Regions from separate parts of the Homo sapiens genome. Here regions 1, 2 and 4 are each linked to region 3. The links come from fine-mapping of genetic effects on gene expression. A gene starts in region 3. Each other region holds a variant in brackets. All regions are shown on one strand. Distances are between the middles of the regions.

Region 1 (8,109 bases), 350 kb after region 3:
AATAGGCAGCAGGTGGTTCCTCAAGTCTATATAGCACACAGTAGCAGTTCGTTAGAATGAAAGAATGAACCACCACCACGCCTCCCCTGCAGCAATCCCCTTGCCGCTGTTGGTTTCTATAGAGACCCATGAAACTTTTAGCTATTGCAAATTTTATTTTCAACTTGTAATTCTTTATCAACATATTATTAGGAATTGTATACTTTGTGTTCTCAGCTTTTCTTTAAAATTTTTTTACTTGTCAGCCAGGCGCGGTGGCTCACGCTTGTAATCCCAGCACTTTGGGGGGCCGAGGTGGGTGGGTCACGAGGTCAGGCGTTCGAGACCAGCCTGGCCAACATAGTGAAACCCCGTCTCTACTAAAAATACAAAAAATTAGCTGGGCGTGGTGGTGGGCGCCTGTAATCCCAGCTACTGGGGAGGCTGAGGCAGGAGAATCGCTTGAACCTGGAAGGCAGAGGTTGCAGTGAGCCGTGATCGTGCCACTGCACTCCAGCCCCGGCGACAGTGCGAGACTCCGTCTCAAAAATAAATAAATAAATAAATAAATAAATAAATAAATAAATAAATAATTTTACTTGTCTATCTGAGTTTTAGCAGTTTTTAAAGGAAGAAACAAGAAAGTGTTCAATGACTGATAGAAAATGATAGTTCAAAAACAAGCTGATTATTTTTATTAAACATGATAACTGACTTCTACTGATAAATGTTAGGCATGTCATATTAGGTAGACATTTGATCATGGTAGATCTTGAGTTTGCTCACCTTTTTTATGCTACAGCCTTTTTTTTTTTTTTTTTTTTTTTTTTTTTTTTTTTTTTTTTTTTTTGAGACGGAGTCTCGCTCTGTCGCCCAGGCCGGACTGCGGACTGCAGTGGCGCAATCTCGGCTCACTGCAAGCTCCGCTTCCTGGGTTCACGCCATTCTCCTGCCTCAGCCTCCCGAGTAGCTGGGACTACAGGCGCCCGCCACCGCGCCCGGCTAATTTTTTGTATTTTTAGTAGAGACAGGGTTTCACCTTGTTAGCCAGGATGGTCTCGATCTCCTGACCTCATGATCCACCCGCCTCGGCCTCCCAAAGTGCTGGGATTACAGGCGTGAGCCACCGCGCCCGGCCGCTACAGCCTTTTTATGCTATAATACCATAACAAATGTCTATTAATATTTTTTATATCAGCTTTAATGGAATATTATAAATGTGTAGTGACATTTTTAGTCAAATGCTTTTGAATATTTAATGTTTGGTAACAATAGGGGAAAGCAGGGGAGGAAGAGAGCATGCCCCTTCATCCTTAATTACTGGTCCTTTGCATGCAGGAAATATGGCTTGATTGTTTTATTGTCCACCTCTTCAATCAACAATTCTTAAATATGGTGCATAGTAAGTGTATCTAGGCTTCTAAGACTTGCACAAATCTGTAAACATAAGCAATATAAAGCTATGTTAGCTTGCATGCTCATCCCATCTATTGTACCATTTATGTGAACTTGATTCATCCAAACATGTCACCACAGTATTTTTTCATCCAAACACATTTATCGTGTTATTTCAACATCTGATGCAGGCGCTGGGGGTCATGGATTGGTGGAGAGGCGCCCATACCCAATTATAACTGATTAATTGTATGGCTTTCAAAAATTGAAATAGCAGAAAATAATAATTGAGGAAAATAATTAAATCATAGTCCAACATATTTCAGAAACCTATGTATTTGATGGATTGCTTACAATAATTAACAGCTTAGAGCTCTGAAATAAGACTTGCTTCTTTGCAAGGAGGCAAGTAAAATTGACCAGTGAGTATGCTGATTAAATACTGTGATTTCACTCTGTGTCCCAAGTGATTTACGTGTACATCAACGCAAAAGCTAAGACTGAAGAGTGAGGCAGAAGGTGACCAGGTTAGCAGGCTGGGCTGTGCCGCAGGGCAGCAGAATGAATATATGCACATTGTTCTCTGGAGTGAGCCTTCCTTTCCCTGAAGCTGAGGGTCTGTGGGAGCCTAAGGGGCTCCATAAATCTCAGCACTAGTATATTCCAGGGGATGATCGCCAGCAGCATTAAGAGCTATGTTTAGCCTTTATGCCATACTGTATCTTTATTAACCCTTCAGATGCAAATTCTGAAACAAAACATTAAAATGTGACTCACTCCAAACAGAAAGATGGAAATGTATTCCTACTAAGAAATATGTGTAACTTCTAGAAAAAGAAAAAAAAACCCACAGAGATTTGTTTTCAACATATTGTTTTTGCTTAAGATATATTTTTACTCTTAAAAATTAAGAAATAGAAGGCCTTTTATTAGAAGCAGTGTAGTGTCACAGAATGACAAAGCACAGTATCAGCAGACAGAAAACGTGGGTTCTAATCTTGCTTTCCCTACATAACTCTCAACTGGTTATTTAGGTTCTCAATAAAGTAGAATGATGAAATACGTCTTCTTAATGCTATTGTATTTTGTTAATATCTAACACTGTTGATATCAAGATGAGATCTTATAAGTAGCTGGAAAACTATCAGTGTAGGGAAAGAATCTGAAAAAAAATTGTTAATCTATTTTTCTGCTGATACGAGCAAGTTAAGGGGTCTAATTTACTATTTTTGAGTTCACTTTCCTTTGTTAATAGTCTATTCTCATTGAAATGCCAGAGAAATAGTCGAATAATGTCAATCTTTTCAGACAACTCCAGGATCCTAAAGAAAAAAGCAACTAAGGAATGATGACAGCAGTAATGTGAAAAAATGTATCATATGCCCAGTGGATTTATCCCGTTCACATAACTGGCTAACAAGAATGTTTTTTATGAGAGGCTGAGGCAGGAGAATTGCTTGAACCCAGGAGGTGGAAGTTGCAGTGAGCCAGGATCATGCCACTGCACTCCAGCCTGGGCAACAGAGCAAGACTCTGTCTTAAAGGTTAAAAAGGTTTTTTAATGCCTAGTCTACAGGACTTTTGTCCCCTTTATTGCATTCTGAGCTTCACTATGTCTAAGCTCTAAGACTCTGACCTAATGAGTTGCTAGTAGATATTTCAAGAACAGAGGTATCAAAATCTCAAAACATATTCATATAACTCATTCTTGTGGAGATTATTTGCCATTCTTTTTCATTGCTTTGAAGAGAACTTTAAATGTCCACTTAAAGGAAGAAAGCTACCATAATAATACGGTTGATGTAGTATTGAAGTTTTAGTTCCTGAAATGTTTAGAATATGAATTTAGAAAAAGAAGAAAAAAGATGCCACAGATAAGTGAATTTCACAAAAATATCTTAATTAAAATGCCCAAAGCCGAATTATGGTTTAGCATCAAACGTCACAGAACCTGATTTATTTTGGAGGTAGAGAAAAAAGAGGACAAGGAGGCAGTTGCCAGATCACATAGGGCATTTCGGGAAAAAATCCTTTGAAAGTCATTTTATAAAATCTTTGTTAGTCTATGGTTCATTATAGACATTTTCCCTTAATTGGTGGGCAAGGACTTG[A/GA]AAAGGTGAGGCTTGTTGGTGGCTGACCAACCTGCCTGATTTGAGGACGCACTGATGAGTCTTCAGGTTTCTGCATCTTTAGCACAGTCATTTATAGCTCATATACATATATATGTATATATGTGTACATATACATATATGTACATACATATGTATGTATATATATACACACACATATATATTTTATATTTGAATTCGGTTTCAAATAGTTTTGTATTTTACATTAGGTATGTTTGGAGAATTATGCTGCAACAAATATACATAAATTATTTGGAAACAGAAATATCTTTAAATTGGGTTTTCTTAATGAAGGCTCCTTAAAAAGAATAAAATTATTTTCTTTATGTTTCACCATTCTATATAATAAACCTTTACCTGTTTCAATGGTACTTGTGTCTTGCAATTTTCGATACATTGTAGAATAAAGTTCCATTTTACAAAAAATATTTTGATAAACCATGCTGAATTTCTACAGTTAAAATTACCTAAAAACAACTCTTAAGGATAAAACAAATTTCAGATTAATTATGAAAACAAGAATGTGGCAGGGCATGGTGGCCTACACAAGCAATCCTAACACTTTAGGAGGCCAAGGTAGAAGGATTGCTTCAGCCCAGGAGTTCAAGACCAGCCTGGGCAACACAGTGAGATCTTGTCTCTACAAAAACAATTTTAAAAATTAGCCTACATGGCACAAACATCATTTTGTTTGTACACTACCTATCTGAGATAAATGACTTGAAAATGTGATATTATCAGCTGGATCAGTCATCTGATATGAGCTATAAACGTGCAGCACAAATGTCACTCAGAGACTGAAAAATGAGTAAAAATCAATAATTTCTTAGGGAAAAAAGACTGCCTAGAATCTTATTAAAAAACATTCTGGGGGTCTATCAGTTAGAAATATTTTGGTTACACTGACAGATAACCAAATTCAAATGGGCTTAGAGCAAAAAATGGGAGGGCATAGGGGACACTTACTTGTTCACATAACTGGAAAGCTCCAAGGTCAGTTGGTTTCAGGTAAGGCTTGATCCAGCAGTTCAGCAGTATTACTAAGGACTTGCCTTTACCCATATTCTTCCCCATGCCTGAATGTCCAGGTAAGAGTCATTGGTCATTGTAAAGATTTGTCCAGCTTCCATTCTTCATTCCTAATCTGAGTTTGTTTTCCTTTTAGAGAATAACTCCCTAGTGTGTTTAATCTTAGTAAGAAGGTAATTATTCCAGGCACCAGTTTCATCTCTACTGAAAGGGAAAGAAACAGATTTCACCTCTCCCTTTGCCCTTCCCTTCCCTTCCCCATCCCTAAGTTTATGAGCAGACATATGACTTAAGCTTGGTCAGGTAGATGCTGTCTTCTGGACTTTGGATCTTGACAGAGTTCCACGGGATGGAAGGAACAGGGGCAGCCCTGCAGCATAGCCTTTGCTCCTCCCCACTGTCAAACCTGCTGTCCATATCTAATCAATCCTGGAAGTCCTACAAGCATTTCCCTTTGCTTAGGTTGCCTATGTCCTGCTGTTTGATTGATAGAGCAACAGAGCCTTTGCAGGAAAGCCCGTGCAAAGGAGAACCTCCCACCTTGTGTCCCCAGGGCACTAAGTATCATATCTTTTGATGTGCCCATATCGATAAACATTGTACTACTGACTTAGCAATCTGTGTTCCCCACCCTACTGAGCTCTCTAAAAACAGAGTACTTAGCTTATGCTTAGCCCAGTGTCTGGTCAATATTAGATATTTAGAAAAATCTGTGTGAATGAATGAATGAATGAATCACTTTAGGGAGAAAGGACATGCTTGTATTAAACAGTTCTTAAATTTAAGTCATACATTATCAAGCACAAATAATAAGGGCTCTTTACAAAGTATCGAACTGCCATAAGGAACATTTTTAGGCTATTTTATGAGGACTTATTCTTTGAGGATCTATATACCTGTCAGGATGAATCTTGGTTCATCCCTGAAATTTAATCTGAAGGCTTCTTCAGTGCAGATTGCTCCCTATCTAATAGGGGATAAATATCCATTATGCCACCAGGAAATGCCTCTGACATTTAAATGCATGCCTTATCCTAACTGAAATAAAGGATCTCAATTCTCCCCAGTTTGCCTGCAGCACCACTCCCAGGAGCCAAGCCCTGGCCTGGCCAATGACACCACATGTGTAGAAAGATACACTGGGTTTTGCAGGTGCGTCGGGACGCTCTGAGGAGGGGAGGGTAAGACGGTGACACGCACTCCTGCCACTCTTACATCGAAGCCTGACCCCTGCACTGTGTGATCACATACAGGCTCAGCCTCCTGCAGGGGCACCCGCATTCCAGCCTGGCACGGTGGGCACCCAGCACCTCCCAGGGGAGCAGGGCAGTGCACCGAGAGTCGAGATGCTCCAGCAAGGGTGGGCATAAACCAGGGCTGGTCTTCCTCTACCCTTCTCCTTCCCTTCCCCTCCGAGTAATGTGTGTCTAGCCATTAGGTGAGACAGAGGATATGGGTGTGTGCCCAGAGCAGGACACTGCCCTGAGTCCAGTGGGGAGGTCGGGAGGGAGCCCCCTCAGGGCCAAGGGTGGCAGAGGAGCAGGGAGGTCGCTGTCATATGGGGGACTGACCAAAGAAGTCAATCTATTAAGCATCACAGAAGCCAGGTTTCTTGTCAGAAAACGGAGTTGAAAATATGAGGAGGGAGAAAACTAGAATTATCCCTTCAGGTGGAGTTGGAATCTGACCCACCCATCTGAACTGGTGGTTTTCTAGGTGGCTGGTGTGTTCATTTCCTACAGCTGCTGTAACAAATTGCCACAAACTGCGGGGCTGAAGACAAATTGATTCTCCCACAGTTCCAGAGCCCAGATGTCAGAACTCAAGGTGTTGGCAGGGCCGTAATCCCCAAAAGCTCTAGGGGAGATTTCCTTCCCTGCCCCTTTCAGCTTCTAGTGGCTCCACAACACTGAGTCCTCACATGGTGACCTCGAGAGAAAGGAAAAAAAAAAAAAAAAGGCAAAGAGGGCCTACGTAGATAGTACTCTCCAGCCCTGTTACAAGGGCACTCACTAATACATTCATGTGGGCAGAGCCATCGGGACTTATCACTTCCCAAAAGGTCCCACATCTTAAAACTGTCACATTGGGTCTTAGGTTTCAACAGATGAATTTTGGAGGGACACATACATTCAAACCATAGCAGGCTCTGAGGATTCATGTCAACTTCCTCATTTTGATGGTGTGTTATGGTTCAGTAGGAGAAAGTCCTGTTTATAGGAAATTCACACTAAAGTACTTGGGGCTAAGCATCAGGTTGGCAACTTACTTTCAAATGGATCAGAGAAAAATATGTTCTTTGTACAGGACTTCCAAATTTTCTGTAAGTTGGTGATTGTTTTAAAAAACAGACCCAACTCAGCACTGATCTTAAGTCTAGTAGACGGTCAACAGCAGGTTATAATTTCAGGAGCTGCACACAGCCATCAGCCAGTTTCCCTATGTGCTTATCATTCCATTTCATCCTCATTAGAATAGTCAACATTATTTTGTAGCCATTTCCATGTTATCTTTAAACTATGAATTCTATAAAGTTCTAAGGACCAATCTATTTTACTCACCAGCATTTATCCAATGACCAGAACAGTCCTTGCGACAAAGTAGGCACTCAATAAGTATGTGCTGATTGAATGAATGAAGGTGACTTGAAATAGAGGCACCAGCATGGCCTTTGGAGCTAGAACTGGGCACCACTCCCATCTCTCCCACTTCCCATGTGTCCTCTGCACCACATGCATCAACTTCCTAGCCCAGCTGAACAAGAGCCAGACTTTCTAGATTTGAATCCTGACTCTACTACTTCCTAGTTATGTGGTCTTGGGCAAGTTCCATCAGTTTCCTCATCTATAAAATGGGAATTGTAGTAGTTTGTATACTTCATAGGGATGTGTGGCATGTTGTAAGTGCTTATGAATTATCTGGGCTTGATTTCCCAGCTCTTTAAAGAGAATATTACTTGCAAGGTTGTTGTGAGACTTGACCCTCCATAAATAGCAGTTATCATGATTCCATTTGATAATACTTTCTATGATCTAATCACAACTTTATGAAATAGGGAAAGCATCCCTATTTTGTTAAAAAAAAAAAAAAACAAACTAATGTGTAAATTGAGTGATACATTCGAGTTCAACACTAGCAAGGATAGGGTCTAACTCAGACACAAACACATCTCTCCAGACCCAAGACTGTGACCCTTTTCCCCGCATCACAAATTCCTTTACAGGTCTGAAAAGGCCCCCTGTTAAACTGAAGATGTTCTTGGGAAGGACTGCACTGTAAGCTTTACTCTTTTAAAGAAAGACACCATACGGCAGTAGTTTTTAACATACTGTGCAGCAGAAGCACATGGAAAAATTGTTAAAAACAGGTTATTGGCTGGGTGTGGTGGCTCACGCCTGTAATCCCAGCACTTTGGGAGGCCGAGGCGGGTGGATCACAATGTCAGGAGTTCGAGACCAGCCTGACCAACATGATGAAACCCCGTCTCTACTAAAAATACAAAAATTAGAATGGCATGGTGGCATGTGCCTGTAATCCCAGCTACTCAGGAGGCTGAGGCAGGAGAATCGCTTGAACC
Region 2 (8,109 bases), 30 kb before region 3:
ATTTTCCAAAACTTGAAAAAGTGGTAACATTTTAAAGATGAAAGGAATTTGTTCCTTTCCTCAAGAAAAGAACAGTCTGGTGTAATGGACAAATTGAAATGCATCAAAATATAAAGTGCCTCTTTATTTCATTCGTAATGGACATATCTGTTGGCAGTGGCCACCATGGCAGAAAAGAGATGGCAATTTTTCATGCAGGAACATTACAAATAAATTCCTGTATGCTTGAAATGTCTGGAAAAGTCTGTGGAAATGGACCTTAAATGGTTACACAGTTAACATTCAGATATCAAAGAATTTTGCAAAATAGAAACTGTTTAAATATTAAACATCAAATTTTCCTTCTTTCAAAGGACTAATAACTTAGCAATAAAAATTGTCTTTGAATCTTGCCATCACAAGGTCTCAGTCAGGCAGTGGATTTTAAATGAAAACTTGCAGGCAGCTCTTATTTAAGCAAAATTAACAGCTGAGCAAAGAGGAATGAATTAGTAGACTGCCCCAAACTCACATTGACCAGACAACAGTCCACCTCCATTGCAGCACAAGCCTCTCTGTGGAGCTGCCTGCAAAGCGAAACCAGGATCAATGCTGTCAGGGAAATGCTTCTGCACAGAGGCAAGGCACTAATCAAGTTCTCCTGCAGCTGCTAACCTGATCCCCAACCGTTAAAGAAGAAACACACAGCCATGAGAGAGGAGCAGATGGTGGACAAGGAATCAGAGAAAGGGAAACAATAATGGGGGAATCCGGGGGCATGAAAATATTGGGCCACCCCAACAATAAAAATCCCTTTGTCCATAGTGATCAGGAAACGTTTTATTAAGATGTTCTCAAATAGGCTCACCCACATGAGGCAAAGGGTAAGGTTTGCCCATGCAACACCTGAGGCTGTTTCTGGGTAGGCAACTGGGGCCTTCGTACCAGTTTCCAAATGGGAGCCCTGTTACTGAACCAGAGTAAGAAGGCAGGGCCCAGTCAAAAGTAGCAGGAGTCATAACCTGGGAGGAATGGAAAGTTAGGAAACATCAACATATTTTTTTTTTCTGTACAATCATGTGCCGTAGATAAACGTTTTGGTCAATGACTACATATAAGAAGGTGGTCCCATAAGATTATACTAGAGGAAGCAGAAAGATGCCTATGGCCTAGTGACATCATAGCCGATGCAATACAATACATTACTCAAGTGTCTGTGGTGATGCTGGTGTAAACAAACCATCTGTGCTGCCAGTCATATAAAGGTCTAGCATGTATAATTATGTACAGTACATAATACTTGGTAGTGACAATAAACCACTACATTGCTGTTTTATGCATTTACTGTACCACACTTTTTACTATTTTGAAGCATAATCCTTCTACTTATTAAAAAAAAAAAAAGTTAAGTGTAAAACAGCTCCAGGCAGGTCCTTCAGGGAGTATTCCAGAAGAAGGCAATGTTATCATAGGAGATGACAGCTCCATGACTGTTATTGCCCCTGAAGACCTTCCAGTGGGACAAGATGTGGAGGAGGAAGACAGTGATATTGATGATCCTGATCCTGTGTAGGCATCGGCTAATGTGTGTGTTTTTGTCTTCGTTTTCAACAAAAAAGTTTCAAAAGTAAAAAAAAAAAGAAAATTTTACAAATAAAAAAGGCTTGTAGAATAAGTTTACAAAGAAAGACATTTTTTTGTAGACACAGTCATGCTCTGTCGCCCAGGCTGGAGTGCAGTGGCATGATCTCAGTTCACTGCTGCAACCTCTGCCTCCCAGGCTTAAGCAGTTCTCAGGCCTCAGCCTCCTGAGTAGCTAGGAACACAGGTGTGTGCCACCACATCCAGCTATATTTTGTATTTTCTTTTTAGTAGAGATGTGGCTTCGCCATATTGGTCAGGCTGGTCTCAAACTCCTGGACTCGAACTCCTGGCCTCAAGTGATCCACCCACCTTGGCCTCCCAAAGTGCTGAGATTACAGGTATAAGCCACTGTGCCTGGCCAGAAAGAAAATATTTTTGTACAGCTGTATAATATGTTTGTGTTTTAAGCTAAGTGTTATTATAAAATAGTCAAAAAGTTAAAACCTTATAATGTTCATAAAGTTAAAAAGTCACAGTAAACTGAGGTTAATTTATAACTGAGGAAAGAAAAATATTTTAATACATTAGCATAGCCTATGTGTGCAGTGTTTAAAAAGTCTACCGTAGTGGGCCGGGTGCGGTGGCTCATGGCCTGTAATCCCAGCACTTTGGGAGGCCCGGGCAGGTGGATCATCTGAGGTCAAGAGTTCGGGACCAGCCTGGCCAACATGGTGAAACCCCGTCTCTACTAAAAATACAAAAATTAGCCAGGTGTGGTGGCATGCGCCTGTAATCCCAGCTACTCGGGAGGCTGAGGCAGGAGAATTACTTGAACCCAGGAGGCAAAGGTTGCAGTGAGCCGAGATCGCGCCACCTCACTCCAGCCTGGGTGACAGAGCGAAACTCCATCTCAAAAAAAAAAAAAAAAAAAAGTCTACCATAGTGTACTGTGATGTCCTAGGCCTTCACATTCACTTGCCACTCACTCACTGACTCACTCAGAACATCTTCCATTACAACCTCCATTCGTGGTAAGTGCCCTATATAGGTATACTATTTTTTATCTCTTATACCTTATTTTTACTGTACTCTTTCTAAGTTTAGACAAGTTTAGATATACAAATACTTACCATTGTGTTGCAGTTGCCTGCAGTATTCAGTACAGTAACAAGCTGTACAGGGTAGTAGCCTAGGAACAATACGCTATACCACATAGCCTAGGTGTAAAATGTGCTATATTAGGTTTGTGTAAATAAACTCTGTGATGTTCACACAATGATGAAATTGCCTAATGACACATTTCTCAGAACATATCCCCATCATTAAGTGACACATGACTGCATATTTTAGAATCAGCTTATGAATTTCTACAATAAAGCCTCTTGGGATTTTGCCTGAGATCACATTGAATCTATAGATCACTTTGGAAAGAACTGACGTTATGACACCATTGAGTGTTTCAATCCATGAACATGATATCTCTCTGTTTATTTAAATCTTTTTTCATTTCTCTCTGCAATATTGTATCCTTTTTCAGCACAGAAGTTATGCACTTCATTTATTAAGTTACTTCTACGTATTTAAAATGTTTTTTGAAGCTATTGTAAATTTTGTTTCTCAATGTTATTTGCTTTCTTAAAAATGAAAAATCCTCATTGTTTTCTTATTCTGGAAAATATAAAGATATAGAAAAGAAAGTATCAATTATAATATTACAGCCTAAAGATTATTATTAACATCTTGGTGTATATCCAATACTCTTATTTATATTCATACCTACATATACATATTTTAAAAATATAAATGATGAATCTGTCCTTTGAAAATAAAAATTAAGCCAAATCAACATCAACATAACCTAAGAAGCATTGAGTGACTATCCTAGACCTACTTTGGGCATTGATTTAAAAATCCCTGTATATACCCATTTTGGGGAAATCAGAACACATTTTTTTCCAACAGAAACAATGTTTAAAATGGTAGATTATCAATTCAGGCCAAGCACAAACAAACAAAAAAAAACAAAAAACCCCTACTTAACCCATAATGGCTTTTAGCCTTCTGTCCCTGGCCAATTTTTATTTATTTATTTATTTTTATTTTTTTTGAGATGGAGTCTTGTTCTTGTTGCCCAGGCTGGAGGGCAGTGGCACGATCTCAGCTCACTGCAACTTCCGCCTCCCAGGTTCAAGTGATTCTCCTGCCTCAGTCTCCAGTGTAGCTGGGATTACAGGCATTCGCCACCACGCTCAGCTAATTTTGTATTTTTAGTAGAGATGAGGTTTCACCAAGTTGGCCAGGCTGGTCTCAAACTCCTGACCTCAGGTGATTCTCCCCACTCAGCCTCCCAAAGTGCTGGGATTACAGGCATGAGGCACCATACCCGGCCTGTCCTGGGCCAATTTTTAAATCCTTCTAAGGTAGCACAATCCCTATGCCTTTATTCTCTGTAAGCCTTGGGCCTCTTAAAATCCTCTAAGGAGAGAGACCCAGGATGGAACTGGTGGAGGAGCTTGAGCAACAGCAGGAGCTGGGAGTTGGGCAGGGAGCCTTGTACGATACTGACTCTAGGGTTCCTGTGTCTAAGCCTCAGAAGTCGGGTGGACTCTGGCAGTAGAACCGAGTAGTGCCAACTTTTTTTCTGTAGTAATCTTTCCCAAAGAAATTCTCCTGAGGCTGAAATTCAAGAGGTCTAACCTCAAGGTAGTCATGTTGACCAAGAAACATAGCCTGTACCTAAAAGGTAATTTCAGAATAATTGATTGAGTTCTTTATTTGCCTTTCTCAAACACCATGCTGTCAGCACACAGTCCACAGCCTCCTTTTCTACCCCTCTTGACTTCCTATAGCTTTTCAAGAACTCTCTTCTCTAAATCTTGAAAACCTTTTTTCCTAGACATATCCCATGTGCCTTTTTCCTTCTTCTCTTCTCTTTCTCTCAATTCTGCATTCTCTAGCTCTAAAGAAGCATCTGGCAATGACAAGACCCTCCCTGAGGACACAGGGGCAAGGACAATGCTGGGAAGGCCCCACATGAACAACGTCCACCAAACGTCCCTGAGTGGAAGCTTCCTAAGTCAGGAAGAGCCTGTGTAGCTTGGAAGACTTGTGGGAAGTTCTGAAGGCTGGGGAAAGATAAAACTTATTCATAAAAATGTATAGCTCATTCTCATATGTAAAGATCATAGATACCTCAGAGGGAACTTTAGAGGCATGTCATTTTCAGGAATGTTTTATCCACTTTGCTTTGAGCCTCCATTACTAAACCATGCAACAAATTGTCTCAGCCCTGAGCTCCAGAAGGGCCTAGGTTTGGAATTCTGCGGAGCTGCAGGTCAGGAGGGAGCTGTTTTGGCAGTGCAAAACAGGGAAGCTGGCACGGCGGCTGTCTGTGCTGTG[T/C]TGATCTTTTGGTCTGATACTTGTTTTTAGTTTCACTTTCTTTTAATTATGGTCTTTCCATATCTGACCTTAACAGCACCCATTCTTTTGGTTTGTTGGTTAATTTTAATGATAACAGTGTATTACCATTAGAGTGGTTTCTCAGGTCACAGTGTATTGCAGAGAGCAGATTGTTAATTAAATGGTAATGTTTTCTGAATTTGGAAGTAATTTCTAAAGTTAATAGTTATTAGTTACCTTGAAATTGTAAAACAAAATCATCAGTATATAAAATCAGTACATAATTAGCAAGCTGTCCTCCAAGAAGCAGATCACATCATACTGTGTCCAAAAGGAACAGCTTTGCTGACAAGGCACTGACATAGTTAAGAGAAACCATGAATCACGTAAGGGGCCAGGAAAATGGTGCTGCCCAGCTCACATTCAGAGGCAGCATAATTTATGAAGCTCTGAGGACAGTGGGAGGTAAGCTGTCAGAAATGCTAAGTCCTCTGTGGAATTATTACATTCCCTTTGAAAGATTCGATGTCATTGAAACGAGGTAATCTGGGGAAGCTTGGAGGTTCTGTGCAATTGGGGAAATATGCAAAGATACTTGGAAATGAAGCCAAATTTTTTTCAGCCCTTTTCCCACTGGAAATCAGGCCCAAGGTCTTATGAAAACAGACTTTCTTTTCAAACATCAGGAGGAAATACTGCAAGAAGGATGCCCATGGCACTTTGAATGTTCCGGATCCACCAATATCAGAAAGGTCAGAGCAATGTAGAAACTGCGTGGACTGTGACTTTCAGATCTGTGTTTGCTTCCTCTCTGAGCACATTCTTTTCAATTATTTAAGATCAGATATTGTCTATGAGTTCAAGGGGAAAAGAGAATGAAAAAATTAGCACTATATGTTGATGAGTTGTGCAAACTTATTATCAGTTATTATATTTATTATTACTTCTGATAAGTACTTTCTAACACTTACTGTTGAGTGCTTACTGAGTGCTGAAAACAGTGTGGAGTGCTTTGCCTGGGTTATTTTACTTAATCCTGCCATAAATATAAGCACCACCTTCAGTTTACGGATCAGGAAACTGAGGCTTAGAGAAGCCAAGCAACTTGCCCAAGATCACACAATTTATCAGTGCTGGAGCCTATATTCCGGTCAGTTTCTTTAGCTTTTATAAAGGTATCAAGTTTTAATCTAATAAAAATATTAAAATGACTAGATCTACTTGACATTTTGGAATTGAATAAGATTCACCTTGAGGTAGAGTCCTCTGGATTTTGGCATAGCAGACTGACTATTTTTTTTTTGTCAAATCATTTTTATACAATTCCTTTCTGGTCCATAATGGCTCTGTGCATGTACTCTCTGAATATAGATGCAATCACTTCACTGTTAATGCCTACAGAATGTTTCCTCAGTAAGAAAGAAAGTTTATGCAACTTTGGAAAATGGTGTCTGAACACCAGTCCAAAACCACCTCATACGACTGTCAGATTCTTTTTTTTTTCCCCTTTTCTGTTCATATACACAGTTCATCCATTATGACTTGGATCATCAAGAGATTTCTTTTAATGGGTTACATTATTTTCTGTCACACAGCCACTTATTTCCTTGGAGGTCCATTGTACACACTATCCATTTTCCATGGGGGTAGGTAGTCCTGTTTCTGAAGTATTTATAAGAAATTTTATCATGGTTTCTATGGCAATAGACCATGAGAACATTCCTTCAAGCCATTTAAGATGATAATTCACCAAAACAAGTGCATTTATTTTTGTTTACTATTCGGCCATTGAAAGGTCTGGGGTAACTTAGTTGGCAGTTTGAAGAAACCTTTTCCTTCTCACTTCTGTGCATCAGGCAGCTACCTGGTCAAAAAAATTGATTTTAAGAAACATGAATGGCCACAGAGCAATTTTAGCAACAGTTTTTGCTGAACCTTTTGTGGTAAACATTGCCATTTCCTAGGTGCAGAGTGATTGGACTTCAAAATGAACCATCAAGCCCACAGGCAAGCTTAGTACAGAAGGCAGGCCTGCTTTCCAGGATAGTAGTTAAGCTTTTCTCTTCTGAATCAAATATCAGAAATAAGCCTTTCCCATTTGTGTATGATACCAGAATAAATAGAGGCCCCTCACAAGGGAAGCATTTTGATTCAGCTCAATTCAACAGATGGTTATGGGGACATAGTGTGGCATTGCAGAAGGACAGCAGGCTTTGGGCTCACCAGAACTGGATTCAAATCGTAGCTTTAGCTGAGGAGCCCTGAGAAAATGACTGGCCTGCTTTAAGGCTCTTTCCTCACTTGGAAATTAAAAACAATAATGCCTACACTGTCAGGGTGTTCTAAATATTAGAAATAATATATATGTAAACTGGGACCTACTTGGTCCTATCTTGGAGAAGAGACAGAGGCTAGAAACAGAAGTAAATCACATTCTTTACCTGGGTTTCTCAGAGCACAATAAAAGATACCCTGTTTGTAATCTACGACAAATTGATTGGGAGAAACATGAATGGCCACGCCTTTCTCTCATCCTTCTCCCCGAAGTCCTGCTCTCCTAGGGCTAATCTTTCTTTTCCTTCCTCTTCCACCCACCTCATTAGTTCTGTCCCTCTGGCTCCAGGTCTCTTAATTCTGCATCAGAAATGCCTAGGAACCTGGAAAAAGTCTGATTCTCCTCAGAGAGCAGGGAAGAGGAGAAGCTGCAGAGCAAAAGCCAGAATTCTCTGTAGATGGCAGAAAGGGCGTGGCCAAGACTGCAAACACACACCCATAAAGAGGTGTGCGCTGGCATATGCACAGAAAACTCAATTCAGTGCCTGGGACCTAGCAGGTTCTCAATGAAAAGGTCCTAGATTAATAAGCGCCCACAGTGTGCCAGATACCTCATAAGTATGCAGGTTAGAGCTCAACGAGGGGGAAAATAAGATCCCTACTTCAAGGAGTTCATAGGGTAGAAGCTGTTCTTGAATGTAGGTGTCTATTTTAAGCTGTTACCTCATCACTAAAACAATGAATATGCACTCAGTTATTTCCATCAAATACCCTATGCCTAATAGAACATTTACATGGCATACATGACAAATTAATATATCAGTTGCATTCCAGGGAAGGAATTTCAAAATGACCAAGAAACATTTCTTGAGA
Region 3 (8,096 bases):
AAGAAGCATTTTATTTACATGTGAAAACATTTAGAGGAAAATAAAACAGAGATGGTTCAGGTAGCTGCTGAGCTGTTTTAATGATAATTGATTTGATTACTTAAGCTTTAAGGTTACTATATACAGGATACATATACATATAAAAGTCATGTTTTCACTTTGTATATTTGTCAGATGAGAACATTCTTATAAAGGTAACTCTGACATTAACTTCGCAAGTTCTGAACTAAGACCTTTTAGCATTTTATTCTTTCCAAAGACTAAGACCAAATTGTTCTAAATTCCATACCCCACTGTGCAGATCTATAATTTATTTATTTTTTAAACATCAGAAAATATGCCATTACCCATAGGACTTCCAAATGTAACAAATCTGGGTAAAAACCAATCAAATGAATAAATTATAGCAGTAGACAGCAAACAGTTTCTCCTGTTCTCTTTCTTCATTTTCCTTTCTCTATAGGAAATAGCAAATTAAACCATGGCTATTCATGATCTTGTACTATGAGAACACATATGGGCATACATTTTTGTCCTATTAACAAGTTTGTTGGCTTGGTGGCAGAAAGTAAAGTACACTGTAAAGACATCTTAATGCTTTGAGTAGGGTCATTTGTTAATGGACAGCCCAACCTAAAAGTCTTGTACTAATCTCTTATGGTACCCATTGGCTGTCTTTAAATGGATACTGAAGAGCAAAGGCAGGCAGCCCTGGTTATACACAAGAACCACGTGGAGCTTATGAAAAAAATGCAGGTACCTGGGTCCATCCCCAAGGTTTCTGATCCAGTTAGTATATAAACAAACAAACAAAACCCAACAACAATGAAAATAAAGGCAATTCTAACGTGCCATGATTGAGAACCATAGTTAAGAGAGTCCCAACACCAGTGCAAGGATAATACCTACTTTGTTTTTGGATAGTAGGACAAAGCCCACCCTTGGTTCGTTTTTCCAGGGGCAGGCAGGAGGGTGTCTGAGAAGCTGCCAGAGCTCTCTGAGAACTGACAGCATTCTCTGAGCAGCACCTTTATAGGGAGTATTCTATAAGAGATGGAGCCTTGATATACTAAAAATTTTCTGGGTTAAGGCCAATGGAAGTAGATAATTGAACAAAAAAATTACATAATGCTAACCTTGAAGTTGAGTCTGTAAACTGTGGCAACCTTATACACATTTGAGCATTTTGAGCAAAAGTTCATTAAGAGAGGCTGACTGGCTCAGCTTCGCTTCAATCACCCAATCATTGCAGGTCATTAGAAACAAAAAGAAGAATATGAATGCCATATCCTAACCACCCAATAACTGTAGGTCATTAGAAACTGACAGAAGAATTCTTAAGTCAGAAATGGCAAATTACATCTCTTGGAAATTAATCTACTTAAGCCAGTGTATTTTTTTCCCCCACTTTTCCCCCCTCATTTCCTTTATTGGCTTAATTTTTGTCCTTTTAATAAAAGTGCTTTTTTTCTTATATCTTTTTTTTAACGATAATGTCTGTCCTCTATTACTTTTAATCTTTTGCTATCACACTCTATGGCTTCTTCATTTAATCCTGTATCTTCTAGTCTTCTCATCTTTTTATACCTCACTTTCCTCATGTTTTTTTCCTTGTCATTAACACCAGTATAGAAAGTCCTTCCTCTTCATTTTCCCGTCTTTATGTCTGGTTGCCAACCGCGTTTTTGATTCTCGACCTCTCACTTTTGCTAACTGCCCTTCCTTAATCATCTGTTGATGTTTTATTCCTATCACTTCTGTCAATGCTCACACCCATTTCTTTCCTTTCCATCTATCTGTATATCTCCATATGCATTTTATGATCCTCCTACTAAATGCTTAAAGCTGTGTGTGTGTGGAATAGAACGGTACCTTCCTCCACGCGAATCCGATTTCCCTCTCCTCCCATAGCTACTTCTTGTCTATTCATCCTTTCCAGATGTCGCCCTGTCCCACCCCATCTGTCCCCTTCTTCCCCGTGTGAAGCCCATCTTCTTTCTAACCCCATTTGCACCCGTCTGATTTTACAGTCAAGGACTTCAATAAGATAAATGATGCAGAGTTCTACTGGGAACCAGATTGTGTGTGTTTCTGAAACTTTTGCGCGTTTACTGAAATGGGATTAGGGATTTGGATACAGAAACATTCTCGGGCAGCCTTTCAGCCCTGGCACAGCTTTGTACACCTTGGAGCGCGCTGGGGCCTATTCTAACGGGCAAGGACAGGGAAGTCTTTCAAGACCTTTTCTGGCCTTTTCCACTCCAGGGGTCAGGATGAATAGGCATCACTGACCCAAACTGTTAAACCAGGCCGGGTGGGGAAGCCTGGGGCCCTCTTCTGCGGCAGATCTGGCGGGGTGTCCAGGGCGCCGCGGGGCTCCGTGCAAGAAGGGGTTGGGGCAGGGGCCGCTGCGGCCGCAGGAGTCACCGGGCCTCCTCGGGAGGTCCGCTCACCTCTTACAGAGGAGGCCGACCCCAGGCCGGGTGCTCCCCTGGGGCGCAGGGCGCGGCCCCGGGCGCCGCCACCGCAGCGGCGCCGAGGGCCGGAGGTGCAGCCTTTCCCCAGGAGAGAAGGCGAGTCGCTGTCGGTCGCTCAGCCAGAAGGTCGAGGGAACCGCGCGGGTGTCCCTCGCCAGCCGGCCCTCTGGGAACAGGGCGGGGGCGACACCCCAGGGAGTAGGGCTGAGGACCGCAAAAATCAATCGTGGGTACCGGCGCGGGGTCACGCATAGGAGAGGAGCGGGAGAGGGGCTGGTGGGGGCCCCAGGGCGGCTGAGGCCGTGGCTCTGTCGTGGACTCGGCGGGCGCCCCGAAGTCTGGGGCCGCCACGGCTCCAGCTCCGCCGGCTCCGGCCGGAGACTCCAGGCCGCAGTTTCTCCTCCTCCCGGCGCCTTCTCTCCAGTGAGGAGCTGAGCGCGGGCGGCGCGGGGGGAGGGGTGGCGGCGGAGAGAACAGCCAGTTGTTTAAAATCCTTCTAGAGCAGTTTCTAATTCCCCCCTTGCGCCCGGGTTCGGAGGGGGGAGGGGGAAGGAGAGCGGGTGGAGGGAGGAGAGCGGAGAGGGAAGGCGGGAGGGAGGGAGTCGGGGAGGGAGGGAAGGAGGGAGGAGACTGCCGCTGAGGCTTAGCCGCCACCGCGCGCTTCGGAAGGCCAGAGGGAGGGGGAGGCCTGTCAGTCTCGCGCGTTGCCTGGGCGAAGGGGGCGGAGCTTTGGCGTGGGGCGGCCAATAGTGGGGGTGGCTGCGTGGGTCGCCATGGGGACGGGGCTGTTCCCGGGGAGGCTGTGATGGGTTGACAGGTGCGTGACAGTGGGAGCTGCTCTCGGCACAAGCATGTACGGCAAAGGCAAGAGTAACAGCAGCGCCGTCCCGTCCGACAGCCAGGCCCGGGAGAAGTAAGTGTCTCCGCTTCTCACCCACCTCCGCCTTCACACGCGCGCACACTCACGCACGCACTCGCACACTCTGGGAGACACAGACACTCTCCGCCCGGGGAGCGCCGGGGGTGGGCTGGCAGGGGGAGGGGTGCCGCGATGGGGGCGTGTGGTGCGGGGAGCTGCGCTTTCCCGGGAGGTGCGGGCGCTGGGCGGGCGGCCGCAGGGGGCTGTCGGCGGGAGGGACCGGGTGTGTTGAGGGGCGGCGGTGGTGCTGGTGGCGAGGATGGAAACTTGTTTGGGTGATTGAGGGAAATAACCCGCGGGTTCACCTTCCAAAGTAACTTTAGAGCTGGGGTCCGGGGCTCCGGGGACCTGGGGAGCCGCCGGGGGTGGCGGGAGGGGCAGCTGCGTGGAGGAAGGCGCGCAGTGGGAATGTGGGTGTTTGGCGGGCCGGCCGGGGTCGGGGCCGGGGTCGGGGCGGGCAGCGCGGGGAGCGCGGCGGCGGGGGCCTGGGCGCTGGGGCTTAGGGCCGCGAGCGCGGGGCGAGGCGAGGCGAGGGCGGCGGTGCCGGGCGCGCGGCGGGCGGAAGCCGGGCGTGGAGCGGCCGAGCGGGGCCCCGCGGGGCGCGGAGACGCGCGCGGGGCGCGGAGGGCGTGTGCGGGTTGGGCGTCCGGGCTTTCCTGGGCCAGCTACGGACGCGGCGCCCGCAGTCCCCCGCGCATCGCGGGGCTGGGGCTGGGGCTGGGGCGGGGGCGGGGGCGGGTGGGCGCCGGAGACGCCGCCGAAGTTTGGGAGTCGGAGAGGGACCGAGTTCCCGGGGAGCTAAAGTGTGTTGGCGAGGAGCGGGATCCGCTGGAGGAGGCTGGCGTTTCTGCCTCTCGCAGCGGACCCAACTCCGCGGCGGCGGCTGGCGAACTTTTTGTGAGGCTGGCAGCCCCCGAGCGGCGGGAGGGGCGGGCCCGGCGGGGCGGTGGTCGGGGGCGCGCGGAGGGGAGTTGTGGGAGCCGCCGGGGGCGCCCGAGGAGGGCAGCTGTGGCGGGGAGGGCCAGTGGTCCGAAAAGGGGTTTGTGGGAGGGGAGAAGCGTTCAGGTGGGAAGGAGCCGCTTGGTTACAGTTGTGGGGAGATACAGGTGTTAACTTCGGTGGGAGCCCAAGAGGCGGCTGGCGAGAACAGAGCCCCTCCCGGCCCGGGATGCCACTGTCACGGCACACTGCAAAGCAAAGCGGTTTGCTGCTATTCTTGTGTACTTGTAACGGTGATTTGGTTGTTACTAAAAATGAGAACGAATAGTGACTGTGATCACTGAGGAAGAACCCCCCCCTTTTTTTTTTAAACTGTGCAACAGATCAGTGATTCCCAGTAACCACTTAAACTCTGAGGGTCAGAGTTATCCTTGTCGTTGAACGCACCCTGTCTTTCTGAGGGGGTTCAGACCAGAGAAAAAGTCTGAGAGCATCTCTCAAAGGTACTTTGGTTACCTTGCGCACAGAAATAGCTGCGTAAATAAAAACCGAATGCGCAGGCGACTGAGTTTCCCTCCTTGGTTTAGGCAGTTAGTCTCCCCCTGAAAGTTTTGTGTGCCCTAGGGATGGGAACATTTCCTAATCTTTGTGTTGGCAGCAACACACTCAATTCCCATAGGATTTAGAGGTATCAGGCCTTGATGTAGCAAAGCAAAACAAAACAAAACAAAAATTAGAGAGGCTTTTTTGTTTTTTTGCAAGAGATATTTTCTGAGCTGCATTCAGGATCTTGTTGCTGTGACAAGTAGTATATAAAAGACATAGCGTTATAGCCTGGTTAAGAAACGGCAGTTACTAGAATTGAAGTTTTGAAATGCAGTCTCATTTGTGTGCATTAATCATTTTGTTATAATGTGCCTGATAAAAACATCTGAAGGAGGATGTTTTAATGATCACAGAATATTTGAATTTCACATTAGTCAGAGTGATTGAAATGTATTGAGGCATGATCTTATTTTGGGGGTGACTGAATTTGAGAATCAAAGTAATTTTAGATTTTAGGTGAACTTCCAGGAAGGGGTGAACTTTAGTTGAATCCCACTCAGTATCCTGAGGACTGCTTGATTTTTTTTTTTAGTTTCTCAGATAATAACAAGGATGTTGGAACTTGCATAACTGTGGTCCTTTCTAGCTCTAATTCTGTGATTTCCCACCAGGAAAACAAATAATTGCCACTTTGCTGTCAAATCTACCAAACTGAACACCAAGTAATATCTACTCTCGTGAGCAGATCAGGGTTCTGCTAGATGGTGCTATTTGATTTAAATATATTTCTTCCATTCATTTCAATTGGCAGCAGGAATTCTTGACTGGTTTGCCTTATGAACTTAAATATAGGTGAAGAGGCCGCTTTTGGAGAATTGACAATGACTGTTCTGGGTTAATTGTCGTTGCATTAATTTCTAGGTTAATGTTGTTTGAATCTAAGACAAACATCGACGTAGGTTCTGTCTTATAGAATAAACTTAATTTCATCTTGGTGGGAGAGTTGATCTAATCTCTCGGTTTTTCTCTTTATGTTTACTTGGGACTTTAATGGCACTATTCTGCAACAATGTACTAACATCTGAAGGTAGGAATCTTGAAGTCATCATTAAAATGGATGTCACCAGATTTTTGTTCTTAATTTTTAAGGTAACAGATTATAAAAGGTGAAGAATTCTCCTTTAGTAAGCAAATTAGAACTGTTCTTATCTTAAAAATCACAGAAATAATTTGTTTCTGTAACAAATACTCATTTTAACAAAAACATTCTGCAAAAGGAGTCATTATTATAAATAATAGCATGCTTAGGAAATAAGCACATTGGTTTTATAATCAAGAAATGTGTTTTCTAACATGAGTTCATGGTGAATAGTTGACAAGTGCTTACCTGTATTAGATCTTTGTTTTGTCTTTCATTAGGAAGTCACTATATGAAATATTTGAAGTGAATTATTGGTTTTACACAATTCCTGTAATTTCAGTATACAGTTCTGATAAAAATGATCAGGGTAAGATTAGTTACTTACTCTGTCATTTTAAGAAAAGCAGATCAAGTCTTAATTATAGAGGGAGTGATTGAAAACCCTTGGAGGGAGGTGGGATTTAGAAATTTTAATTCTGATCTTGTTAGGTCATTTCTTCCTTTAGCAGGCTTTCTTTATAACACTAATCGCAATTGTGATTAAATAACCGTGATTGGCTGTTTAATGTTTAACTTTCCCTAAAATATAAGTTTGTTGAGGGTAGGAGATAATCTAATTTCTTCTCTGAGGTATCTTGAACATTAAGGTGCCTTCTAATACCAAAAGCATCAATAAATTATTGTTATTGAAGATGTTAGACTCAAAGGAATTTTTTCAATGTAAAAAAATTTTTTTTCAGTGACCTCCAAAATAAGGACTTGTAAGTTTGAGTTTCACATTCTCTAGCTTAGTTGTATTTCAGAAATACCCCTAAACAACAATACAACAAAAATAACTATTATTTATTTGCCATCCTGTGTGCCAGTCACTATGTTCAGTGTTTTATGTATATTTTTTTCTTAATTCTCCCAACAAATCTACAAGACAGTTGCTTTTTTTTTCCTCCATTAAAGAAATATGAAAACTAAGACCCTGAATGGTTAAAGAACTCACCGAGGGATACAATGCTAGAAAACAGGAAAGCTGGGTTTCTAACACAGATTTCTCTAACTTTAGAACCTGTGATTGAAGCTGAAAGATACATTTTTCAGTGTACCAGATTGTCTTCCTGAACTAGGGTAGGATGCTACAGATTTAGGGAACAGCATTACATAATCAGATGTGACAGACTTTAAAGATTTGATCAAATATGCAGTCTTAACCACTGGTGCACCCTGATGCTTTGCAGATCTGTGTATGGTGTGGGAGAAGGCACAGAAATTTTAGGAAAGTTGGAAGCCTAACATAATGACGAAAACTTGTTTCTTCAGATTCCCCCCCCCCCCAGGAATTTTGTTTGATTGCTTGTTTTAAAGTTAAACATAATAGTTGTGAACAATTCCTATATGAAATGTTGCTGAACTTAAAGCCACACAGTATGCCACACTACCGCAGAAAGAGTAACTGGCACCTGCAAATAGATGAGTAGTGATATTAATTTTTTATTAAACTAATTTGATCTTTTATGTAAAGCACAGAAAGATGAATCTGCTAGAAAGCAAAGTTGAACATAAAAGATACACATAATATATACCGACTTTTATTTAGTAAACTAGCCAGAAACTACAAGAATCAAACTGTCTAATCTTGAGCTCTGAAAAGTAACTTTGGCTTTTAAATTTTCAATGTTAGTTGAATATACCAAGAAGCAAATACCATATGCTTATTTCAAAGTAGTTACAGTATAATGAACATTTAAATGCCACTTCATATAAAAGGGATTAATATCTGCCAGCATCACCTTGTTCTCCCCTTCTACCATTAAAGTAATTAAAGCATTCCCCCATCATTAAGGTACCCCCTGCAAAGAAAAATGACAAACCTTTCTTTCTTTCTGAAGGAATAAGGCAAGAAAAGTAATAGAGATCTCTTCAGAAACTTACTTGACAGCAATTCGCACAATTCAGGATTTCCAAAACTAATGAAGGAGTATCTTATGGAAGTGAAATTTTGTGTAAAATATTAAATTGCCCCTCCCCCTTTCAGTCTCCAGGATGTTCCCCCAAAATACAAGTTGTTTAACTTGTATCCGAA
Region 4 (8,109 bases), 39 kb before region 3:
TTTGAGCAGGCCAGCAGCATATTTAGATTTCATTTTTTTAAGAAAAAATCTCAATGGATGCAATATAAACCAAACCAAACCCAAACAAAACAAAATAAGGCATATGTGTAATAACTGCTATGTGTGAATTGTGCGCAAAGTACTGCAAAAGTCCCTGAGGGGCCAGGTGCCTCCTCATGGCTGTCGAGGGCCCAGGAAGGCGTTCTAGAGCGGGTGACCTGGGTCGTGAGGGGGGGCACCTCAGCACTGCAAATACCCCACCTTCTAAATGTGTTGGTTTGATTCCAATGCAAATCCTCTCATTCTTGAGAACTTTGAAGACAGTATTACTCAAGCACCTTCTAAAACTGCAGTCCCATTTATTATTTATCTGACACTCCTGATGACTTTCTTTCTTGTCAGGTCTATGAATCTGAAGGAATTTTAGAGCTCAGATAAAAACTTTCTTGAATAAATTATTATAAAATTTTCAATTTCTAGGAAAATCATCAAACTGCAATAATAATGCTAAGCACCATAAACGAAGTTTGGTGTTATTTCCTGTATGGTCTACAAAAATTTTACAAAAAAAAGTTGAAGAATGAAGTTTGCATGATCATTAATGTGGCTCTTTTTCCAGAGAAAATAGATTCTCTCTTCTAATGAGAGCATTGTAATTAAAAAAAAAAATGAATCTAGTTAAAGGGATTTGGGCATGTCATGTATGAAGAAAATTTTGACGGAAATGAATGTCAAATTTTTGTTTGTCAACAAATAACTACTTAAAATAACAAATAATATTGAGCAATTAGTAGTATACACAAGTGTGATCTTTGCATTTTGTCATTTACTACTCAAAATAGTCCTATGAACCACATGCCAGTAACCATCATCCCCATTTTACTAACAAAGAAGCAGAGGCCTAGAAAGGTTATATAACTTGCCTAAAGTCATGCAGTTACTAAGCACCACAGCGGAGATTGAAAACTAAATTTGTCTCCAAAGTTTATATTTCATTGCACGGCTGCTGCAGTTCTTTTTCTTAGAGATCTTGGGGCTTTTAGCTCCTTCCTTTGGGCTAGATATAGGATTTCAGCTTTGGGTACTTGACCAGACATACAAGTAGGAGACTAGTACAGAAAGGATAACTTGTTTAATAACCTCATAATCACCAGTGATTCAATAATTTAATATTAACATTAACCTCCATAGCCTTCCTTTCCATCAGCACATTATCATCTTTATTGAAGGATATAGGATATGGCCCTAAATTACTTATTTTTCCTAGATTTGTACAACTCTGCCCTATTGCATTGCTTTCTTTTCTTGTCAATCTGTGGAGCATTATTGGCTAAGTGGGATTGAGTATATCTTCCAACGTTAATTGTTTTCAGTTGTGAAAAGGGCGTTCCTGGAGTGGAAGGAGGGTAGCACAATGGTAAAGGGCAGCTCTGGCTTTGAATTCCAGCTCTACCATTTGCTTGTTGTATACTTCTCTTGATAAGCATGTACAGCATATGCCCAGAAAAACCTCCTTCCAGAGGGTAATAAATTAAGTTCCCTACTCCATCATCTTCTTTTTTTTTTTTTTTTTTTTTTTTTTTTGAGACGGAGTCTTGCTCTGTCACCCAGGCTGGAGTGCAGTGACGCGATCTCCGCTCACTGCAAGCTCCGCCTCCCGGGTTCACGCCATTCTCCTGCCTCAGCCTCCCGAGTAGTTGGGATTACAGGCGTGAGCCACTGCGCCCGGCCTCATCATCTTCTAATATGATCTTTTCTCATCAGGTAGAGGTAGGAGTTTTAATAGTCATATTGCATCCTTGATTCAAAGATCCTGCTCACATTTAGTAAGAATAAATTAGTGTTTGCTTATCATATTTAAACTTTTGATTTAAAATATTTTACTTTCAGTGTAGCCACTATGACACTATTTTTCAAAAATGTCGGTTTCCAAAAGAGTAGACAAATATGTGCTATGGTTTGTATATATAGATAATACTATAATACAATGGACCAATAGTGTCCATGTAAAATTGTCTTCCACTAGGACTGAAGAATTTGTATCAATGTTATAATCAGAGCTGTAGGGAAATAAATATCACAGGCCAGAAAACTACCAGCCAGTTAATGCCAGTGTTGACAGAGTCATGTAGGCACAAATAGGTCTTCTGTTACTGGCTGATATAAAACTGGTTGTTTTTTGAAGGAAGCATCAGGGATGAACAAAAAGTCTAAAAGATTTCACATCAGGGCTACAGTTTCACACTTAATTCATTCAAATACTGATAAAAATGGTAATGAAGAATGAAGGCCATGCTAATTGCAGTTCAATAATTTTAGTGATGCCTTTGCTCTATACTGGGGGATCCAGTTTCCATTACACATCTATTGCAAATCATTCACTTGTTCTAGTGTTTATTAAGCATCTACTACGTAAGAAACTGTCTTAGGGACTATTTTGTTAAGGATCTTATGATCCAGAGGAAGGGCCCGTGCACTCTCACATGACAAAGAATATAGCCGCAAGGTCAAATTCCTTTACAACATAATTGAAGGAACATCCAAATTATTGTATTTCAATAGAACCTTATTTTATTGGATTTCCGAAATAAGTAGTTTATTGGCTAAGGCTGGGGAATCTTTTGATAATAGTGAAGTTTTCATTATGATGGTATTTATCATAAGGAGATCTGAACTGTAATATAATACAATTACAATCATAAATATAATTATGAGGTGTAAGTGCTAAGGGAATACAGGAGAGATTAATTAGAGACAGGTGGTTCCAGGGCTTCTCCAAGGGCTTCTGGTAAGTTCAGGGGGAGATCTTGATTCTCTCCAGATTCTGCCTTCGCCCAAGGGACTCTCCTACACTGAGAGCTTATGGTGGAGAAGAGAGGGTCTTTTCCTTCACACTCAAGTCAGAAGGATCCTTTGGCTCCAGCTTTTAGGAGTCTCACCTTATTTCTTTAAAATAACTAATATTACTAAAAAATACTCTGTTATCCATTAAATAACTTATCTTTTGAGACCTTCGATGATGGCTCCAGATTTGAAAAATAGCCTTTTAAAATGAAGTGACATGCAGAGGACTCGGGTCAAACCCCCAAACGCTGTTGAGGAGAGGCATGCTTAATAATGGGCCCCGTGAGTTATGAAACATTAATGGATCCTGACACAGCTGTCACTGGGACACCGTGGTCACTCTCATCTGGTCAGTCGTGCATGAGGTCTCACTTTCATTCGAGTAGGGATGTGACCACTCTACATCTTTTTATCTTCTCATTCACCTACACGTTTCACAGCCTTGCACATTTCATATTAATAAGACTCTCCTAATATTAAGCCTTGATTGGCCGACTGCTGGGTGTATTTGTTTTGAAATAAGCTGTTTGGATGGATGTAAACATTTTGACCATGCTGACACTAAAGACAATCTTTTTTTTTGAAACAGAGTCTTGCCCTGTCACCCAGCCTGGAATGCATTTCATACATCTTCAAACACTCCCACTCTTTGCCAGCTTTTAACCCGAGTCTATTAGTCTCTGCCTCTTTTCTCAACCCTCTTTAATCCATCTTTTTTTTTGAGACGGAGTCTTGCTCTGTCCCCAGGCTAGAGTGCAGTGGCCCGATCTCAGCTCACTGCAACCTCCGCCTCCCTGGTTCAAGTGATTCTCCTGCCTCAGCCTCCCAAGTAGCGGGGATTACAGGCACATGCCACCATGCCCAGCTAATTTTTGTATTTTTAGTAGAGGCGGGGTTTCACCGTGTTGGCCAGGATGGTCTCAATCTCTTGACCTCGTAATCCGCCCGCCTTGGCCTCCCAAAGTGCTGGGATTACAGGCATGAGCCACTGCGCCCGGCCTTTTTTTCTTTTCTTTTCTTTTTTTTTTTTTTTTTTTTTTGATGGGGTCTTGCCCTGTCACCCAGGCTGGAGCGCAGTGGCGTAATCTCAGCTCACTGCAGCCTCCACCTCCTGTATTCAAACGATTCTCCTGCTTCAGCCTCCCGAGTAGCTGGAATTATAGGCACGTGCCACCACACCCAGCTAATTTTTGTATTTGTAGTAGAGACGGGGTTTCGCCATGTTGGCCAGGCTGGTCTCAAACTCCTGACCAGATGATCCGCCCGCCTCGGCCTCCCAAAGTGCTGGGATTACAGGCGTCAGCCACTGCACCCAGCCAAGACAATTTTAAAACTAACTTAGGGAAATAAAGATCGTGCTAGGTTTTGCTGGATACTCAGCACGCTAAGCTTCAGTATGCCTGTGCACAGCAAACAGCAATTGGAAGTTCCTGGATGGCCTTAAGTAGAGCATCCCTGGCCTTGTGGTTATTTGACTGTATCAATACATGTTTAACTGCCATTAATAAGAAGCAGAAACAAAACTAGTCAAAGCCCAGTTTAAACCAGAAATGAGAGTTTTGTGGAGCTCTAACTCCCAAGGCCATATAATCAAGTGTATTGTGCTGACCATCAGCTGTCAGGAACACCGAGTCCCCACTTCAGCTTGGTGATGACTCACTCTGCTGTCCTAGGTGAGTCACTTAAACCCTCTGCTCCTCAGTTTCCCAACTCATCTCTCTTCACATGTATGCAAAGGACTTGCAGAAAGAGTCTTTTAAAAAATGACCTGTTTTCAGCTGGGTGTGGTGGCCCACGCCTGTAATCCCAGCACTTGGGGAGGCCAATGCGGGCGGATTACAAGGTCAGGAGATCGAGACCATCCTGGCTAACACGGTGAAACCCTGTCTCTACTAAAAATACAAAAAATTAGCAGGGTGTGGTGGTGGGCGTCTATAATCCCAGCTACTCAGGAAGCTGAGGCAGGAGAATCGTTTGAACCCAGGAGGTGGAGGTTCCAGTGAGCCGAGATTGCACCACTGCACTCCAGCCTGGGCGA[C/T]AGAGCGAGACTCCATCTCAAAAAACAAAACAAAACAAACAAACAAAAACCTGTTTTCAAGCATCTGAGTGTGTAATTGTTTGACAGGAACAAAGAAAAGAAACTTTTTAAAACAGCAAACTTCTAGCTCCCATTGATTTTATATCAGTAACAAATTACACTTTGTTGCTATATAGGATTGGAAATCAGCAGTCAAGCAAAAGTGAAGTTCCAATAATCTACATTGTTGAAGTGCCAACAAACAAAAGTCAGTTTGTCATGTTTCTAAACAACTGGAAAGTTGGGAGCAGGCTGAAGCAGTGAGGAAAACCTTAGGCAGGATGGAACATAGCTCCGGGTTAAGAGGAGGTGGTAAGGGTGAAGTGGGATCTATGGCTTAACAAAGTGGTTAATTGTCATCACATGATTCAAATATGTTTATTTCTTAAACCTTCACTCCAGACTGAGGCGGACAAGGGGCCTCTTTCTAATTACAGATGACTATTAGCAACCAACAGGGAGAAAGAAAGAAAAATGAAAACAAGAAAAAAATGAATGAAAAAGAAAAGCACTGTAATCCTTTGCATTATCAAAAGTGATCAACAGTCGGTTCTTTACAGGCTGTGAGAACAACATTTCCACATTATTTTCCAGTCACTGCTACCAGCAGAAACTCCCTATAGAAGGAGGCTCATAGCAGCTACACACAGACAACAGAGAAGGAAGCTGCTTGGTATAGCCGTCACCTTCAGGACAACAGACAGCCAACAGAGCATTTCACCCTGAAGGTGTACGTGTGATTACACAAAACCCTCACTTGGTCATTTTTTTTACGTGTTTTAATAATGCTGATGCAAAATAAGAGTAAAATTACAGGTGCCAGTTCCCATTGTAGAATGCTGATAAACAACTTACCATTTTGCAGTGGCTGGTCACATCTGGAGCCTTTTGGGATGCAAAAGTACTGGAAGGATTATTGCAAAACTTAAAGACACTTTTGCTGCCATTACTTTGTTTTTAACCTAAATTAGTGTGGGTTTTCTTGGGGGGGTGCTGGGGGGATGCTTTTTTAGATAGTCTTAATGCTTATATTATAAACTTATTTAGTTAAACACTAACCAAATAACAAAATGAAAAAGGGGGTTAGGTTTAGAGTAGTTGCTTGAAAACTTTTCCAAATTGACCTTAAATAGACAGAGGCTGGTATAAAACTATGGATTGGTGGATTATGACTTATTAATTTTGGTACTATCAAAATCCTCAATTTAACCTGATGAAACTTGATTTGTCACTGTTGATATCTCTCTTACAAATGTTGAATTAGCATGTAATGTGCACAGTGTAAGAATAATAATATAAATGGAAGTGCATTGTTCCTATTCTTTATGGAGCTATGGTTTTTCATAACCACAAAAGAACATTAACATAAGAATATAATGTATTAGGGTATAGTTAGTATTTTGACTCTTTTTTAATAAAACTCTTCTTTTAGGATATAAATATTTCTCTGTATTTTGTGTCTGCTGCAAGGTAATTTGGGCTGGTACCAGGACTAGACATGGATGGGTGGAGAGAGTCTGGATCTTCCCCTTTAGGGTTTCATGATTCTTGTATGTTTTCCTCAGGTTGCTTCAGGACTAATTCTGCTTGTGTGTAGCTAGTAGAGCATGATCCCCTTGCCTTCTTTTCTTTTCGTGCTCCTCAGTTGAGAATATGCAATCTAAATCCTTAAGGTGCAAACTAGTCATATCTACCGAAGTCCAGCTTCCAGCAGATTCTTTGCTATATCTAGCATGTACGAAATCAGACATTTTAATGAACGCATGTGTTTTCCTGTAGTGTTACGTGGACTGACAGGCTGTGGAGATGTCTGAAGTGATTTGGCTGGACTCATTGCAGTCCTCCAGAAATCATTTCCTGTGGCATCATGCAGTGCATTTCTCCTAGGATTTCCTTGTCAAGAATATTCCTCTTTTAAGCAAAATAATAACTTATGGAGCCTAATGGATTTTATAGCTGAAGATTGAAGTAGTGTGCCCAGTATGTGAAGCATTCTAGCTTTCTTCATGCAAATGAGCAGATATGCTTAACAAGTCAATCTTGAATCTATTTGGTGAAAAAAGCCACTCTGTTGGCTGTGTGCTATTAGTACATGTAGATACAAGCACACACGGGCTTGGACGTGTATTAGCATCGGATGTTACTTCACTGAGAAAGTGATCTGTTGACCAAAATATGCATATCTGAATGGAAGCAGGCCTTTGTGGTGCTCTTTTCAATTCTAATCTGCTATGGTCTGAATGTTCGCATCTCCACAAAATTCACGTGTTGAAATCCTAACCCCCAAGGTGATTGTATTAGGAGGTAGAGTCTTTGTAGGGTGATTAAGTCGAAAGATCAGAGCTCTTATGTGTGGGATTAGTGCCCTTATAAAAGAAGCCCCAAAAAGCTTATTCTCCCCTTCCACCATGTGAGGACACAGAGAGAAGGCGCCATCTAAGAGGAAGCAGGCCCGTACCAGGCAGCAAATCTGCCAGCGCCTTGATCTTGGACTTCTCAGCCTCCAGAGCTGTGAGAAATAAATTTCTCTTGTTTATAAGCCACCCAGTCTATGATATTTTCTTATAGCAGCCCGAATGGACCAAGACAGCTATTTAAAGCCTGTGTAGTAGGAGACTTTCTGGCTGACTCGGTCAAGAAGTCAAAAAGAGATTTCTGTTTTCTTCCAAATCATGCTTATTGATTTGGAGTGAAATTCAGTGATGGGCTGTAAAGTAATAGGACTCACATAGTGAGTCAGAGGAAGGAGAAGATTAACATTTGTTGAGTACCTAATATGTGCCAAGCTTTTTTCATAAATTAACTCATTTATTCCTTACAACAAACTGGAAAGGAAATATTGTTACTCTTCATGTATAGATGAGAAAACTGAAAGAGAGGTTAAATAACTTGTCCAAGTCCAGAGTTCATATTTAGAAGAGCCAGAACTTTAATTTGGGTCTAACTCTAAAGTGTACGGTGTTTCCAACTATAGTGTGCTGCTTTCTGTGGCTTCTGAAACGTTATATAGGGGGACTCAGAGGGAGATAATTCCTTTGGAGGAAAACATCTCATATTGTTTGAAGTACATTTTCAAACCTACTTAGTAAACCTATGTGCTGCAAAGTGGGCCTGTTCCTCAGTTGTCTATGGTCCCATCTGCATTTTACATCTGGAAAAGCATATCTGGAAAGAGTTTCATCCTGGTA

Which allele goes with the higher level. Positions count from the first base shown, and alleles are read on the strand shown. Sizes are in standard deviations (SD) of each study's normalised expression. Not every link is listed here.
For the expression in cerebellar hemisphere of the gene that starts at base 3,274 in region 3, allele GA in region 1 goes with a lower level than allele A (small effect, 0.30 SD a copy in GTEx).

Evidence for each region. PIP is the estimated chance that this variant, and not a neighbour inherited with it, causes the effect. A credible set is the group of variants that fine-mapping cannot tell apart.
Region 1: its variant is the best candidate, but not a certain one, in a credible set for the expression of SSBP2 in cerebellar hemisphere (GTEx, PIP 0.75).
Region 2: its variant is the best candidate, but not a certain one, in a credible set for the expression of SSBP2 in whole blood (TOPMed, PIP 0.71).
Region 4: its variant is the best candidate, but not a certain one, in a credible set for the expression of SSBP2 in whole blood (INTERVAL, PIP 0.61).

What each region holds. Positions count from the first base shown.
Region 1 is chr5:81,399,151-81,407,259 of GRCh38, reverse strand. No RefSeq gene overlaps it. Among named protein-coding and RNA genes, the nearest start is that of ACOT12, 9.1 kb to the right of the region's middle. The variant A/GA (reference allele first, on the strand shown) is at 3,486.
Region 2 is chr5:81,776,076-81,784,184 of GRCh38, reverse strand. It overlaps LOC107986384 (a long non-coding RNA gene), which reads left to right and starts at 5,375. Exons shown (of 3, transcript XR_001742518.1): 1 at 5,375-5,427; 2 at 5,585-5,714. The variant T/C (reference allele first, on the strand shown) is at 4,963.
Region 3 is chr5:81,746,275-81,754,370 of GRCh38, reverse strand. SSBP2 (single stranded DNA binding protein 2) reads left to right here and starts at 3,274. Exons shown (of 17, transcript NM_001256732.3): 1 at 3,274-3,390. The coding sequence starts at 3,329. RefSeq lists silencers at 2,373-2,722, 2,993-3,322, 3,493-3,542, 3,983-4,032, 4,253-4,412.
Region 4 is chr5:81,785,635-81,793,743 of GRCh38, reverse strand. No RefSeq gene overlaps it. Among named protein-coding and RNA genes, the nearest start is that of SSBP2, 39 kb to the right of the region's middle. The variant C/T (reference allele first, on the strand shown) is at 4,883.